Regions from separate parts of the Homo sapiens genome. Here region 2 is linked to region 1. A link means that fine-mapping ties the variant in region 1 to the expression of a gene that starts in the linked region. Tissue or cell type: unexposed skin. Region 1 holds a variant in brackets; the other region holds the start of a gene. All regions are shown on one strand. Distances are between the middles of the regions.

Region 1 (8,104 bases):
AACAAGCTTCCTAGCTGGCAACATTTCCCATGTGTTGTCATAACCCATTGCTAGGGGAAGTAAGTGGGTCCTGCGTGCCTTCCCTGGGAAAAAAAAACCTCGGGAGCTTCCATCTCGTTTCCCCCAGACTTTACCCCAGGAACCTTTTCCTTTTGTTGATTTTCTTCGTATACTTTCACTGTAATAAATCATAGCTGTGATTGCCAATGTATGCTAAGTCACTGAATCACGACAGATAATTGAATCTTAGGGGTTATCTTGAAGACCCCCAACACACAGCCCTTCAAGCCTCAGTTCAAATATGTCATCATTTGTGGAATCTTTCTTTGCTTTCTTAGGTAGCTTCCCATTGCTCTTGCAATTAATGAGAGACCCTTATTGCATGATCATTCACTGTTTGTATTCTGTGCCCCTTTTAGAGTATAAGCTCATCAAATACAAAGATCTGGTCTTTTCACCTTTCTTTTTTCAGCACAGGGTTAATACACTTGGTAGCATTTGCAATGGTGATTATAGTCGATAACACATTTTACACAATGGGAGCATTTTATGCACATTCAATTTGCTTTTCCTACCTAAAAGCATATCCTGGTAGTCATTTCATTACACATCTAGAGCTACCTCATTCTTTCTGAATAAATGCACAGCATGCCTTATCACTAGGACAGTAGGATGGAAAGGACCTAATTATGACAGGTGGCTCATAGAACATTTTACACACTCAGAGTAGACCTATATGATAAAAAGTCTTAGAAATGGAAAATCTGGATCCAAAAGACATTTATTTATTTTTAATGTAAAAAACTGTGATATAATTTACATGCCATAAAATTGCTCTTTTAAAGGATATGGTTCAGTAGTTTTTAGGATAGTCACAAAATTGTGCAACCATCACCACTACCTAATTCCAAGACACTTTCATCACCATGAAAAGAAACCTTGTCTGTACCCATCAGCAGCTAAGATATTTATTTTTCATTTTGATAGGTTTTGCCATACTGTACCGTCAAAATTAAAGAACATCCACGCCTGTAATCCCAGCACTTTGGGAGGCTGAGGTGGGCGGATCACGAGGTCAGGAGATTGAGACCATCCTGGCTAACACAGTGAAACCCCATCACTACTGAAAATACAAAAACAAAATTAGCCGGGCGTGGCGGCAGGCACCTGTAGTCCCAGCTACTTGGGAGGCTGAAGTGGGAAAATGGCGTGAACCCGGGAGGCGGAGCTTGCAGTGAGCCGAGATTGTGCCACTGCACTCCAGTCTGGGCGACAGAGCAAGACTCTGTCTCAAAAATAAGAAAATTAAAGAACATCTTTTTGACCACACTTTGCAGAATTTATCATATTATTCCAAATATGGAATGTAGCAGATTTCTAGTTGCATCTCCCTCCCTGTCCCTACATATAACAATGTCTCATTGGTCTTATCTGAGAAGGTAAGTCCAAGTTCAAGAAAGAAAATGCAAGCCTCCCATTCCCACCTCCCCTTCCCCGCCATTCTGCTGCATCCTGCAAAGAAGCTGCACGTTGGCACGCTCCCCACGCTGACAAATGCCTCAAAAGTCCAGCTTGACTTTAAAAGTCCTTTACAGTCTTTTCGGGGATACGCCCCATCTGTACAAGTGTACACGACTGCCACCCTAACCTTGACTAAGACAAAAGGGATTCTCATGATCTCACTGTTCTGAGTTTAATGCTCTGGCAATGGGAAAATTAAAGAAGGCACAGTTCTTTTCTGTGTCTGTCCTCCAACCCATGCACTGACACCATACCAGGTTGTTCTGTCCTTGGACCACAGTCACCAGCACTGACAGTGCCAGCCACAGGACGCCAAACAAGGCTTGCTTTGCATCACAGCCCTCCTCTCCCCACCTGCCAGGTCCTGCTTATCTGAAAGGACCTCACACCCTAGAAAACTGACTGTAAACTGCTTCCCAGAGTGTGCCGCTTGGCTTCCAGCCCCACGTGGAGAACACAGCCCTCCAAGCGCCCCCAGGTGTATGACGCTTTCTTACCCATTCTTCCTTCTCCTCATGTGTTTTTAGGAACATCCAAAGGGAAGATAATTAAAACCTGCAAGAAAACCAGCTGGCAGAGAAAAGGAAAATCCTGGTGACTTAGTGACGACGCCACATGTTTATGGGTAAGTTTTGCAAGTAACACGACAATAAAAAAGAGGCTGTTATAAATAAATGCCACATTCTTCAAAGCTCTATATAAACTACATTCTTTTTAAGAGGTGGGGGCTACTCATACTCATGCTCCTTCCTCATCATTTCATTTCCAAGAAGGAAAAAGGAATCCTAATTGTATAATTTCCTAGGAGCTCAGGCGTTCTGGAGCCAACAGCACAGAAACACACACGCACTCACACACGCATGCACACACATGCACACACTAGGGGAAAGAGGGAAAGCAAGAAAGAAAAGAGGAAGAGGCCCAAGAGGATCTTTACTTAGCAAAGCAGAGTGGAACAAAGGGGCAGGAGGGCAGGCATCTCACTACCTCTGATCGGGTTTTCTAGCTATTCATGTTAAGCACACATACTTTTAACTCATAAGACAAAACCTCTGCCTTCCTCTCTCAAACGCTGAGCACTGTCTGAAAAGCACCAAGATTTGGGTGAGCCTGTATAATCCCTTTCATTTTTCATCTGCTTTGCTGATTGTCAGGTGAAGCAGAGCCATTTGCCACTCTGCATGTGACACAAGGCTAGGGGCACACAGATTCCGGCGTGGCCTTCCCCACGAGTCAGCTGTGTGCAGGTAACTAAAGCCTGCCCTTTGCTTGCTGTTAATAAGAATAATTGGCACACCACTGAGGGGCTGCTGGAGCACTGTGATTTGCTCAGTTCGGGGGTCTCCCCAGACCATATGTGCATGCAGCGGTGATAGAAATATTTTCCATATGAGCTCTCCTCTCGCCTGCTTAAATGCTCCAGGCTGAGTGAGGCCAGCCCATTTGTCATTCACTCTACACACGAAAAAAATCAACAGGGAAATTGCGAACTTCAACTACAACTAGAGGGCAATGGTCTGCTTTCAGCTTCCAGCATCACTCACCCATTCAGTTCCTCCTGCTCCCATTCAAGGGCTCAATCCCCCCACAGGCCCAGAAAATGTCTACAGAGCAGAGGACATGAGTAACTAATAAGTGAAAAGCCTACAACAAGTGACCCGTTGCTGCATGTCTCTGAGCTGCATGTCTGTTTTGAACAGAGCAACAAGCCTGCTGAAACCACAGCTAGCCTTGCAGCCGTGGGCTTGGGAGCACTCCCACTTCCACTCTTCTTAGACAAGGGAAAGTAATTACATTAGGCTTTCAGAGCCTGCTTGGTCCCTGACAAGGCTAACAAAAGGCAAAGCTGTGAAGTGGCCTCATGGCCTTTTTAGGAGATACACTTTTCATTTGGCTTTTCAAAGACGAAGATGGATGCAGGAGAAAGGCTGTCCTTTCGTTACTCAGGCATCAGGGTAAGGAGGGAAAGGAGTGGATGAGGGAAATACGTTGCAGGCTTGTTTGCAGGTGAGGGTGGATACACCAAGGTGCTTCCCTCTCTGGACTCAATGATCATCTATCCCAATCTCTTTGCCTGCATCAAAAACTGACTCCAGGAGGTATCACTGATGTTAAAAAAAAAAAAAAACTGTACCCAACAATCACATGAACTAAACCAGTAATAATAAATCATCCTCATGAACTTAAAATATGTCTCCCTGCTAAGGTACATCTGGGTACACTCCTAGCCCTGTTGTATATCATTCTCCCTCTTCAAA[T/C]CTATGATAGAAAGTTAAGCACAGATTTTTCTAAGCACATCAAAGAAAAAAAAAAAGAGAGAAGTGTTGCAAAAGCAGGGAAGAAAAGCAATTCCCCTAGCATGTACATTCTCTCTGCAGCACTGGAGAAAAATTCTCAAAAGGTAACAGTCCCTAACGAAATCTGACATGGCACATCTTTTTTTTTTTCTGCTACAGCAGGAGAAGCGTGCGTGCTACAGGCATCTGTCACCAAGGCCAGAGCAACTTCCCAGTGTGGCAACTGCACAGACAGCTTCAAAATGACATTTTAGAAAGTATAAAATTCTTCAAGAAGAAAAGAAGTCTTCATATAAGAAAAGGCAAGAGAAGCCTACAAAAGTAATATAAAGCATTACTCTTTGCACCCCATAAAATTCCATTCCCTGATCCCTCTTGGTAGATAGAAGAGGAAATATAATGCTGAAAAAAAATACAACTTCTGACAAGATATTTTATTTGGCTTACCTCTCCCCCAGGTCTTGCTAACACTGCTGTTTGAACGTGGAGCAATGTTAATATCAGGTAGCTGACAAACATTATTACCCAAAGTTAGAACTACCCTAGAGGAGAACTCCGTCTGCCAAGTGCTAACAGCTAGCAGATGCACTTGTGTCTCGGGATTCCAGCCCTGGAGTTCCGCTAGGCACCGCGCTGGTTCCCTCGGCTCTCCCTCACTGTACTGCCCGGCGCTTCGAGCTCAGCCTCTGTTCTGAAGAAAACTGGTAAGCTGATCTCTTCATGTAATAACTTCTCCCGGCTGGGGGAGGGGACAGGAGCCAGCTGGGAGCTGGGGGGCTGCCTTTAACAGAAAGCAGAAAGGGGAGGGACAGAAATGATCAATGTGGAGTTCTGCATCTGGTCTCATTCATGAAAAGGGTTCCAAGGTAAGCACGCCACATGCAGGGGGACAGCCCCTACCTCGTCCACTGAGGCAGGGAGGAGGCAGTGAATTGCAGCAGGATGAGCTCCGGGCTGGGAACGGGGAGAGCCAGGGCCTTCCTAGTCCAGGATCTGGGACTGACAAGCTGTGTTTGCCTGGACAAGTTGCCAGTCCGCTCTGGGCTGCAGTTTATTTTTCTCACTTATACAAAGGTTGGGTGAATGACTTCTGAGTTCCCTTTTAGATCTGATTTGATGGTTGCAGAAATCTAGGCAGTTAAAAGCTGCATTATCAAGGGCAGCCTCAACAGGGACAGAAGTCACAAGGGTGATGTGTGTTTGTGCACCAGTTGTATAGACACAAACGGATGGGAACTGTGGAAGCCATTATATCCCCCTCTTGCTGCATCCCTGGGTCACTATGCCTAACCAAGAGCTTGAGGAATTATTGCAGAAAATGTAAAAATAGGTGGTAACATGGGAACAAGTGAATCCCAAGTGTCAGACAGTGCTGTCAGAGTACACTGAAATGCAGGATGGTTTTAAAGAAATAAGAGCTACCTCTGAGTAGACTCACATAGACCATCAAAGTGGGGCTTGGGAGCATGGGGAGCAGGCTGGGAAAAGGGTCTTCCTAAAGCCTACAATGCACTTGAGATACACTTTACATGGTCACCTGTTATCCTGAAATAGCAGAGACCATGGTTTAAAATGGATTAGAACCCATCAAGTACTGTATTCTGCCTAGAGTGGGCTCAAGGTGCTATTCTGAGGCTCTTGGTGGCCACAGAGGATAGGATGACTGCACGGTGCAGTGGAAACACCCTGAGGTCCTGGAATTAGGCAGGTGTGGGTTAAACTCCAGTTGTACTTCAAACTCTTCATGTGTGTCTCTGGGTGAGTATTTAACCCTGGTGAGCCCTAGTCTCCCCTCCTGTGAAATAGGGAAATGCCATCCTATGGTTATGATGACTATCAATGAGCTCACCTAGGCACAAAATGTGGCATAGTTCCTGGCACACAGTAACTACTAAAGACACAGGCTTTCTCTTTGATCTGAAATAAGTATCAGCAGCCAGCCCCAGAAAGTAAATTAATAAACACTTGAAAAGCCTCAGGTTATGAGCATTTTCCTGCATTAATGAGGAAACTTTAAACCTAACTGCAGTTCGTAGCCATCTCAGAAAGTTTATTATCACCAGTCACATGACCATTTACCAGTGGGGAGTTTTTTGGTGGGGGACAGGGAGGGAAGAACTTTCATTCCTTTTTACAGGGCTGTAAGAGAAAAAAAGGTATAGTGAGGATAATATCTCCAGTTAAGGAAAGAAAGGAATGAATTTTTCCTCTTCCTCCTTCTTAGTCATTGTTACTGTTCAGCTTTGGTTCTGTTCTGCTACCTAACTAAAGGGGCAAAGTTATCTACCGAGTAACCTCATGAGAAATGCAGGAATTATTTAAGAAAGCCAAAGTTCTTGAAAGACCAGGAGTGTTGTCTAGCCAGGGGTTGGGAAACTTTCTGTAAAAGGCCAGATGGTAAATATTTTAGGTTTTACAGACCACGTGGGCTCAAGTAGCAACTACTCAACGCCGCCATTATAGCACAAAGGAAACCACAGACAACACACACATGAATGGGTGTAGCTGTGTTCCAATAAAACTTTATTTGTAAAAACAGACAGGCGGCCAGATTTGACAGTAGTTTGCCAGCCCCTGGTCTAGACACTTCTCAATCACCCTTCAATCCACTGCAATCTTTTGACCTGTCTGCTCTACTGCAAGGGCTCTGGAAAGGTCACCAATGGCCCCTGTGTCACAAAATTCAAAAGAGAATCACTAAGAACTCATTTACTTCTCTGTAACCATGTCCTCCTTTTAATATTGTGGTAACATATAGACAACATAAATTTATCATTTTGGCCATTACTAAGTATACAATTGAGTGGCGTTAAGTACATTCACAATGTTGTGCAGCCATCACCACTATTCATTTCTAGAACTTTTCCATTATCCCAAACAGAAACTCTGTATTCACTGAACACTACCTCTCCATTTCCCCTCCTCCAAGCCCCTGGCAACCTCTATGCTACTGTCTGTCTCCATGAGTTTTCCTGGTCTAGGTACTTCATATAAGTGGAATCATACACTACAGTATTTGTCCTTTTGTGTCTGACTTATTTCACAGAGCATGTTCCCAAGGTTCATCCACTCTGTAACAGGTATCAAAACTTCATTCCTTTTTAAGGTTAAGCAATATCCATTGTATGGATATACCACATTTTGTTCATTCATCCATCTGTTAATGGACACTTGGATTGTTTCTACCATTTGGCTGTTACGCATAATGCTTCTATGACCATGGCTGTACAAGTATCTGTTTGAATCCCTGCTTTCAATTCTTTTAGATATATATCTAGGAGTAGAATCACTGAATCATACGGTAATTCTATGTTTAACTTTTTGAGAAGCTACCAAACTGTTCTCCATAGTGGTGACACCATTTTGCATTCTCACCAGCAATGCATGAAGGTTCAATTTCTCTACCTCCTTGACAACACTTATTATTTTCCACTTTTTTGACAATAACCATCTTAATGGGTGTGAAACGTATGTCCTCCTGTTTGAACCACTCTCTTTCCATAGCTTCCAGGGCTATGGCTCTAGATTTCCTTTGCCTCTAATCAGCCAACATTCGTTGAGCACTATGAGCCCAGTATTACTAAAATTATTTTAAAAACTTTTAAAATAGTTTCATGTAACCATGACAACAGTCTTATTAAATAATTTGCTCCATGTCACACAGCGGTAGGTGGCAGTCGGCATTCTGACCCTAAAAGCCTTTGTCCAGAGCCTGACTCTTAATGACAGCACTGCCTTGTTACCATTGCTCTGGACTCCTTGACACACCCTGGGCCTAGCTCCTAAATTCCTATATTCTAGGCCCTGTCTCCTCTCTATCTGCCCTTGTTGGGCCATCCTATCCTTCCAATGGCCCCAATGCTTTACACATCCATGACTCTTTTTTTATTTTTATTTTTTGAGATGGAGTTTCATTCTTGTTGCCCAGGCTGGAGTGCAATGGTGCAACCTCAGCTCATTGCAACCTCTGCCTCCTGTGTTCAAACAATTCTCCTGCCTCAGCCTCCCGAGTAGCTGGGATTACAGGCTTGCACCACCATGCCTGGCTAATTTTGTATTTTTTAGTAGAGACAGGGTTTCTCCATGTTGGTCAGGCAGGTCTCGAACTCCCAACCTCAGGTGATCCACCTGCCTTGGCCTGCCAAAGTGCTGGGATTACAGGTATGAGCCACCACACCCGGCCCACATCTGTGATTCTCTACAACCATCTGTAGCCAGGTCTCCCTCCTGACCTGTAGGTCGATATACCCAGTTGCCTAATGGATACTTGCATTCCTCAAATGTAC
Region 2 (8,104 bases), 430 kb after region 1:
GTTACAGCAATACATTGAGCTCCAATTGTCTCAAGCACTGATCAGGCACAGAGTAAAGAAATGGGGCGAGAACTAACACTGAGCGCCTGCTATGTGCCTTAGGGCTTTGCCTTAAGCTCTGCATACCCATGCACTGGTCCCCCACCAGCCCTCCAGACTTTGGCCATCCTCTTGTTACACATGGGGAAACTGAGGCTGGGTGGGTAGGAAGTGGAGCAAGGCCAGTTGAATGAAAGAGATCTGTCAACGGCCAGATCCCATTCTGGGAAAGGAGGTTCAACTCACCGTGCCTGCAGGGAGGAAGGGGCTGGCTTTGCCTGTCCAGCCCTATTCGGGGGGTCCCAAACCAAGCAACTTGGGGCTCTTGAACAAACCCACCCTGGTCTTTCTCCCTGAGCACTCGCTCAGGTCCCAAAAGAAATTCACAGTGAGTCTGGTGGCAGGTGGGTTTACATGCCTTCGAGTAAGCTGAGGGGGCTGGGCCTTCAGGACTGAACTAAAGACCCCTCGGGCCAAAAGAGAGGACCCTCTTCCTGGCCTTGGCCACAACTCTCCATTGCTCACTCCTTAGAGTCAAAGTCAGGGCCTCTGTCAAAAAGGAACATGCTGCCTGGGATAAAGTGGCGTATTAACCCACCACCTGTCGCTAGAACCACATTGTAAAGGAAGCCCAGGGCAGTGGTCCCCAAACCTGGGTGTGCGGAAGAATCGCCTGAGGTAATCTTAAAAACGCCAGTTCTCGAGCCCTGCTTCCACCCTGGAGCCTGTGTTTTCTTTCACCAGATCTGAATTTTGATTCAGATGTTCCTAAGACAACTGTTTCAGGAAATAATGATATAGTGGAAAGAACACCAGATTTAGAGAGCTGGGTTTAAGATTTCAGCTCCAAACCTGAGCTGCTGACCTCAGGCAAGTAAGCCTCAACTTTCTTCCTGTACAAGGCAGATGCTGATGTCTCCCTTCTAGGTGGCTGGGAGGATTAAAAGAGAAACCACTGAAAGCCCCAAGCATTGCACACACCAGTGCTCACTAAGCATGGCCCCAGTGAGGCTAACAAGCCAGCGAGGCTGTGGGCACAGAAGTAAGTTTTGACAGGAGGAGGAAAAGAGAGCAAAACAGGCCTAGATGATGAAGGGGTGTCCCAGCCTCAGCACAGCGGTCCTGCGGAGGAGGAGTAAAATTGGGGGATCCCAAGAGGGGGCCAGAGGCAGCAAAGCAGCCTAAAGCCAGAGCTTCCCCTGAATCTTCTCCTCACCTGCGTCAGCCTGCATCATGTGTTGGCTTCCAGCATAACATTTTTAATCCATTTTCACAGCGAGGATATTCAACAAATACACATGAAACCTTTATATCTGCGCATAAGTAAACATCACGATTCTGCATACACACGCAAAGAAAAAGATGGGAAAACCAGAAAGAAGAGGAGAGAGAAGAGAAAAGTGAGATGAGGGGTCAAACCCAGGCAAATAGTCATGTGCTTTCAAGTGTGCTGGGGCCACTAACATGAGGACAGTGTGTTCCATGACCTGGAGAGGCCCAAGGAGGCTGCTCGGGGGAAACCTCAGAGTGGCTGGGGAGGCGAGGCTCATCCAGGCTGAACATAGAGCAGGCACAAAGAATGCAGGGAAGAGACACAGGAGTGTGTGCAAGAAAGGCTGGGTGGGATACACTGCCTGGCAAAATTTAGATCAGAAGAGGGGAAATCTGAATTTCTGAGCTGGGGATGGGAGGTGTGGGGAGGGCAGATAAGACCATGATAGAGACTGGGTGAGTGGAGGGATGGCCTTCAAGCAGGAAGGCGTTGGGATGGCTCTTGGATCAATAAAGTAGACTGGGATTAGGAAACATTTTAAATGCCCTGATGAAAAGTAACCTGGATTCAACCGTGTCCATACAGTACTTTCCTATCTTTCAGTCTTTCCTCGAGCTCTTTCCTCTGCTTGGCCTGTCCTCCCTCCCCACCAGCCTTTCCCATCTCCTTGAACTCCTCCTTAGGCTTCAAAGCCCAGTGGTAACTGCCCTAGCTCCTCCCATGCAGAATCAATTTCTCCCTCATTCGCATCTCCTTGATGTTTTGCACATCCCCCTTGTATTGCGGTTATTTCTTTACTTCCCTTTCTCCCCTGGGTGGTTATTTATCATCTGCTAGCCTGTGGACTCCCTGAAGGCAATGATATTGTCTTGTTCATAGCGTAAGCTCCAGCACATAGTAACAGTCCCTGGCACATAGTAACAGTCCCTGGCACATAGCAGACGCTCAGAAATATCTGTTGGAGATAAATTAAATAGAAGTGAATACTGGGGAGCCATTGTGATTTCTTGAGAGAAATGATGTGGTGAAATCAGAATTTCAGAAATATTAATCTATCAGCATGAAAGAAGATGGATTAAAATGAAGAAAGCAACTCGTGGCTGGGAGTCAAGAGGGGAGATTATTACTGTAATTTGGACATGGTTGAAGGTGGGGGCAGTGGGAATGGAGACAGGTAAATAATTCCTCAGATATCACAAAAGAATGTGGAAGAGATTTTGCGATGAATGAGCTATAAATGTGGGGGACAGAATGGGAGTGTTGGGAACATTTAAACATTGAGACTCCCAGCAATTAGGATAAAAGTGGTACCATGGAGAGAAATGTGGGGGATGGAGAAGACGGCAATACACAGCCTCTGTGTAGGATAACTGATTGCAATCTCCACAAGTTTTTCGAGGCAAAAACAAAAACAAACTCCAAGTCAAAAATCTCCCCACCCCTGATCTTCCTCCCAAACTCTGGGCTGTATTTTTCTTTCGCTAACAGCCAGTAAGAAATATTTCTTTATGGCATAGGAGACTAAAAAGAAGGTAATGCCAAGCTGGTGCCCCGCCCAGTGCTGGGCACAGAGGAGATCACATGAGTTCCACTGGCCAGCCTCCCCACAAGAAACCAACCCAGTTGCTTATTCAGAAGGGGCTCCAGTATCCTGATCACCCAAACTCATTTCCCAGGCCCAGACCTCTGGGAAATCCCTGCTCCAGCCCTGCAGAGATTTATAGGAAAGTCCCAGGACGCCCATCTGCTTGCTTCCTCACATTAATTTCAGGGCTAGGATTTTGTTTTCTAAAGGAATTCAACTATGATGCCAACAAAAATCTATAGGAATTGAAGAGTTCCGTATTTTAAGTCACATTTTTAAAATGTTTGCTTCTTTGTATATTGAGACCCAGTAAGACCCTAGTAAGCCCAGTTACTCCATCACCTCCAACAATATTAATCAAGTAGAAGACACGCGGATTTTAAAAGCTGTGTGATCCTTGAAAAATCTTCAGACTGTCAGGGGTCCTGGGTGCCTCCAACTGTGAAAGGAGGGTTGGACAAGGCGATTCCTTAGATCTCTCTCGGGTATCTATTTCTCTAATTCCAAATTCCAACAGGCATCCAATGATTGCTACCCACGTCCAAGCTTTAGACTCATAGCCCGAAAAGGGCGAAGCGCAGCGTGGTAGAGATCGCAAAGGAGACAGGAAGAGAAGCAAGCATGCACTTTTAGTAAGACGGCAAAGGAGGCTGGGAGGTACGGTGCTGGGTGCGGACTGCTTAAAAAACTTACTAGACCACAAATTCCAGATACTTAGGTGGGCCCGAGAACGCCCTAAAATCCCCTTCCCAAGTGAGGGCTGATGTTATTTCAAATAAAAAGAAAACTTAACTTCCAGATCTGTAGAGCTCCAAGGTGAGCTCGCTGTGCAAAAGCTACTTCTGTAAGTGCGCCAAGGGGCCGCAGGTACTTAGGCTGCACTTGAGGAAGTGTCCAGAGTTGGCGGAAACAACCCATCCACTCGGGCTCCAGGCGCTCGCTGGGTTGCAGCAACTAAACTGAGACAGACAGACACACAGATCCGAGGCCCCAGGCCAGGACTCAAGGAGCGCTGACCGAGACTTGCCCGGCTCTCGGGCCCCAGGCGGGAGGGAGGCGAGGCTGAGGTGGGGGGCGCACGGGCTGGGTGTGCACTCGCCGGTCCCCTCCGACCCGACCCGGGGAGCACGGGGCCCCGACCCGGGGACGACTGAGGTGGATTGTCCCTAGAGTTTAAGACTGTCCCTAGAGTCGAGGGTGGAGGGATGAGCGCCGGCGCCAGCACAGAGCAAGACTCCCAGCAAGGAAGAGAACCAGAGAAGGAGGCGCAGCCGTCCGCACGGACCAGGCGCGCGCTGGCTCCCCGAGCCCGGAGCGGCGCAGCCCGCGGCGCCCCGGACACACCCACTGGGTAGCCCGCGCCAGCCCGCCCCGCCGGCCAGAGAGCGGGAGCCGGAGCCTGGGCAGCGGAAGCCGGGTCGGGGCCGCGCGGGCGGCGCGCAGGGGACGCGGGGCGCGCGGCTCTGCTCACCTGGCGGTCCGCGTCCCGGAGCGACCGGCGGCCGCCTCGCCTCGCCTCGCCCCCGCGTGGTTCCCGGCGCCGGGCAGCCCCGAGCGCCGCCGCATGGACGGCCGCCACCGCCGCCCAGCCGCCCCGCGCCCGCCCTGCACGGGCTCCCGCTGTGCCCCGATTCCGCGTCGGGCTGCGCGGGCGGCCAGCGGTTCAGGCGCGCGCGGAGAGCTCTGGCTCAGAGTTTGCGATCCGAGAGCGGGATCCGCGCTCCCTCGGTCCTTCCTCCCTCCCCTCTTGCGGCCTCCCGCTGTCATCTGGAGCCGCTCCTGCCGCCCCCTGGCGGCGACCGCGGGAAGGGCCGGCCCCCATCCGCACCCCTGACCCCGGAGGTCAACAACGGGATGGTCCCTGGGTCCCAGGGGAAGAGACATCACCCAGTAGGAGGGAGTACGGTCTAGACAGAGGCCACGAGGGCGGGAGGGGGCGAGAGTGGAGAGTGGCCCAGCTGGCCAGGGTCGTCTAAGTGAGAGGAAAAGGGAGAGGGCGGTTGAGACCAGGCCCTGAATTCCGCGTTCATCTTATCCTGAGGTCTGTGGGGACCTGTTGAAGGACTGGGGCAGGGGACGGACGCGGGCATCCTTCCATTTGGAACAGCCATTCCGGCAGCATCAGGATGGGGCGGAGGCAAAGCGGGGAGTGGGCGAGGCAAGTGGTGCTGTAAACCTGTGCGAGAAGGGGGCGGTGACTCTAAGGGCAGGAAGGAGCCCTGGTCACACACACACTCCCACGCAAGGTAGGACGCGCTGGGCTCCTTCTGAGGCCAAGGGGAAAGGACAAGAGCCCTCCAAATTCCAACGGGGGTTAGACAGCATGGGGAGGAGACACACACACCCTGACGGCCAGAGCCGTTCGGGATTCTTTCTTGTCTTATTCAGAGTAATATTTTGTTGGGGAAAAAAAAGCCTGCTGCAAAAAAATAATAATTCTTCTCATTAGTAATGATAAAAATCAAACTTTGATCCCTTCATTTTACGAATTGGGAAATTATTGCCCCCAAAAGGGCATGACCAAAGTGACGCGTTTAGTTAATGGAGGGAAAATTGCTAGGGCCCCGTTTCTTGAGTCCTAATTCAGAGCCAAATTCTTTACATTCGAGCCAAGGTGTTCAGAGCTGGGAAGGCAGGAAATAGAGTGACTGTGAGGAACTGTCTCTTCTTTCCCCAGAGCAGGGAGGGGGTGACAAATATTTGAAGAGGCTGTCCAGATACAGGCGTTTCCCTAAATTTCAGTCAGCCTGTTTGTTTATCGCTGCCTCTAAAGCTTGCCTGCAGGGGTTGTTTTGAAAGTGCAGGTATACCGAGAGGACAATGAAGGAGGTGGCAGAATGCAAGCTCCCTGCCCCAGAGCCAGGCAGCACCAGGGCTGGGTGCAGAGCGCTTCGTGGGAGCAGAAGGGAGCTCCCAGGGAAGATTGTCCTCCAGAAAAAAAAAAAAATTAACAAAAGGGAAAGAGGCTACTCAAGAGATTAGGCCAAAGAAAGAAACACCATTTTGAGCACCGACTACTGGCCCGGAGCCTGGCAGAGCCAGTTCTGATTGATTCAAGAGCTGGTTCCAATGGGATGAAATAATTCCACACTTGATCAAACAGATTTTGATGGGAGGCACCTGGTGTAAATGGGATTAGATTAATTCTGAGTGTCACGAGTCTCATGGGTCCAAATTAAGTCGATCTAACAGCTCTAGTAAATACTGGCCAGTTTAAACCATTTAGAACTGATTTAAAAAAAAAAACCTGCGCAACTTTAGAATGTACTTAATGTCACTGAATTATACACTTAAAAATGGTTAAAATGGAAATTTTTATGTTATGTACATTTTACCATAATTTTAAAAAAGCAAAACTAATAAGATTTGTTCAAACAAGATTGATTTATTCATTCATTCGAGACAGGTATTCAGTGCCGAGTGTGGCCTTGGTGCTAGGATTCAAAGAGGAAAGGAAGAAAACTTTCCATTCTAAAAGAAACTCCACGTGAGGCGAAGAAGATGAAATATAGTCAGAAAACCATACCAGTAGGTGGTAGGTAAATGCAGAAGTATTTAAGAGCTCATACAGGAGTACCTGCCTCAGGACAGGGAATCTGAGATGCTCTGCAGAGCTGGATCTTAAAGAACGGAGTGAGTTCATCACATAATGTCTGGGGCGAACAGGGCTCAGGAGCAAAGGATGTGGTTTTGTTTGTTATTTTTTAATTTTGAAATAATTTTAGACAAGTTTCACAAATAGTACAAAGAATCCCCTTATATCCCCCACCCTCTTCCTCTAATGTTAACATCCGACATAACCAAAGTATGATTATTAGTGAGCAAACTTGATTCGACAGACCTAGGCTGGCTCCTTAGAAGTGATTCCAGTCCATTTTCAACCTTGGTCAAATTGTTTTGACCATATTTTGCTTATATGTCACAAGAAAGTCTCTTTCTTTAAAGTCAAGATAATACTTGTTTTATTTGTTTATTTATTTTGAGAGAGTGTCTTGCTCTGTCACCCAGGCTGGGGTGCAGTGGCATGATTGCAGCTCACTGCAGGCTCCACCTCCTGGGCTCAAGCAATCCTCTCACTGCGGCCTCCCAGGTAGCTGAGACTACAGGCGTGCGCCACCACATTTGACTAATTTTTTTTTCATTTTTTATTTTTAGTAGAAAGGAGGTATTGCTGTGTTGCCCAGGCTGGTCTCAAACTCCTGAGCTCAAGTGATCCTCCGTTCTTGGCCTCCCAAAGTGCTGAGATTACAGGCGTGAGCCACAGAGACCAGCCTATACTCATTTTAAACAAAGAGATATTTACATTATGTGTAAGCATCAGTGAATATTAAGTATGCTAAGACAGCAAGTTTTAATCTTTCAGTCCTGTTATATTTCTGCTTTTATCCAAATGTGTCTGTCACGTATGAATCAGAAGAGCAGAATGTGGTCCTTGCATATAAAATAGCTTACTGACCCTCACCGAAAGAGAGAGCCAAGAATATGTGCTTCAGATCACAGTCAAAGGCTAGCCTGTGCTTACCTAGGCTGGGGGCCTGCCTGGCATGTCAGTGTCAGCTATACACAGCATCTTGGAGGGTGGGTCACCCCTTTGCATATCTGATGTGGTGAGCTACTCACTACCTCATAAAATAGCCACATTGTTCTTAGAGGCTCTTTGTTAGAAATTCCCTTTTAATTTTGACTTGAAACCTTTTGCCCTGTAATTATTATCCACTGGCCCTAGAGGCAGCTCCTAAAGGGACAGACAAGAAACATAACTCTTCTGTCATGTGTCAGTTCTGTCTATGTAAGACAGCTCTAGCTTACACCTGTTGTCCTATTATAATTATTAATTAATTATTAATAGTACCCCCCTTCATTCTCTTGTCCTAGTTAAGTTGATAAATGATGCATACGACATCCTATAGAAGACTGTCACCACCCCACCTCACTGATCAGCCCTCTGCCTACAGCCACACCCACAGAACATTCAGCCATTTCTCCTGTGGTTCCCAGCCTGCAGCACAGCGTCTGCACGTGGTGAGGGCTCCCAAATCTCTGAGGAATGAATGGCTCACTGCTGAGAGCAACCTTCTGGGAGTTCAGGGCATGTGGAACTGGAATAAGAGCAACGTGTGAACAGATTACAGGAAGGCAATGCAGGACAGCTGGACCCTTTGGGGGGAAACTTATGGGGAACACAGTTTTCTTACTTATAAGCACTG

Alleles and levels. Positions count from the first base shown, and alleles are read on the strand shown. Sizes are in standard deviations (SD) of each study's normalised expression.
As copies of C replace T in region 1, the expression in unexposed skin of the gene that starts at base 4,596 in region 2 goes down (small effect, 0.18 SD a copy in GTEx).

The links. PIP is the estimated chance that this variant, and not a neighbour inherited with it, causes the effect.
Region 2: THSD4 starts here. The variant in region 1 is fine-mapped to the expression of THSD4 in unexposed skin (GTEx, PIP 0.98).

The regions. Positions count from the first base shown.
Region 1 is chr15:71,543,643-71,551,746 of GRCh38, reverse strand. All of the region lies in intron 7 of THSD4 (thrombospondin type 1 domain containing 4), which reads right to left. Among named protein-coding and RNA genes, the nearest start is that of THSD4-AS2, 140 kb to the left of the region's middle. The variant T/C (reference allele first, on the strand shown) is at 3,780.
Region 2 is chr15:71,111,963-71,120,066 of GRCh38, reverse strand. THSD4 (thrombospondin type 1 domain containing 4) reads right to left here and starts at 4,596. Exons shown (of 18, transcript NM_024817.3): 1 at 4,369-4,596. CT62 (cancer/testis associated 62) reads left to right here and starts at 4,563. Exons shown (of 4, transcript NR_168260.1): 1 at 4,563-5,143; 2 at 6,304-6,436; 3 at 7,773-7,919. RefSeq lists silencers at 4,203-4,292, 4,443-4,582, 4,613-4,672, 4,519-4,696, 4,733-4,782.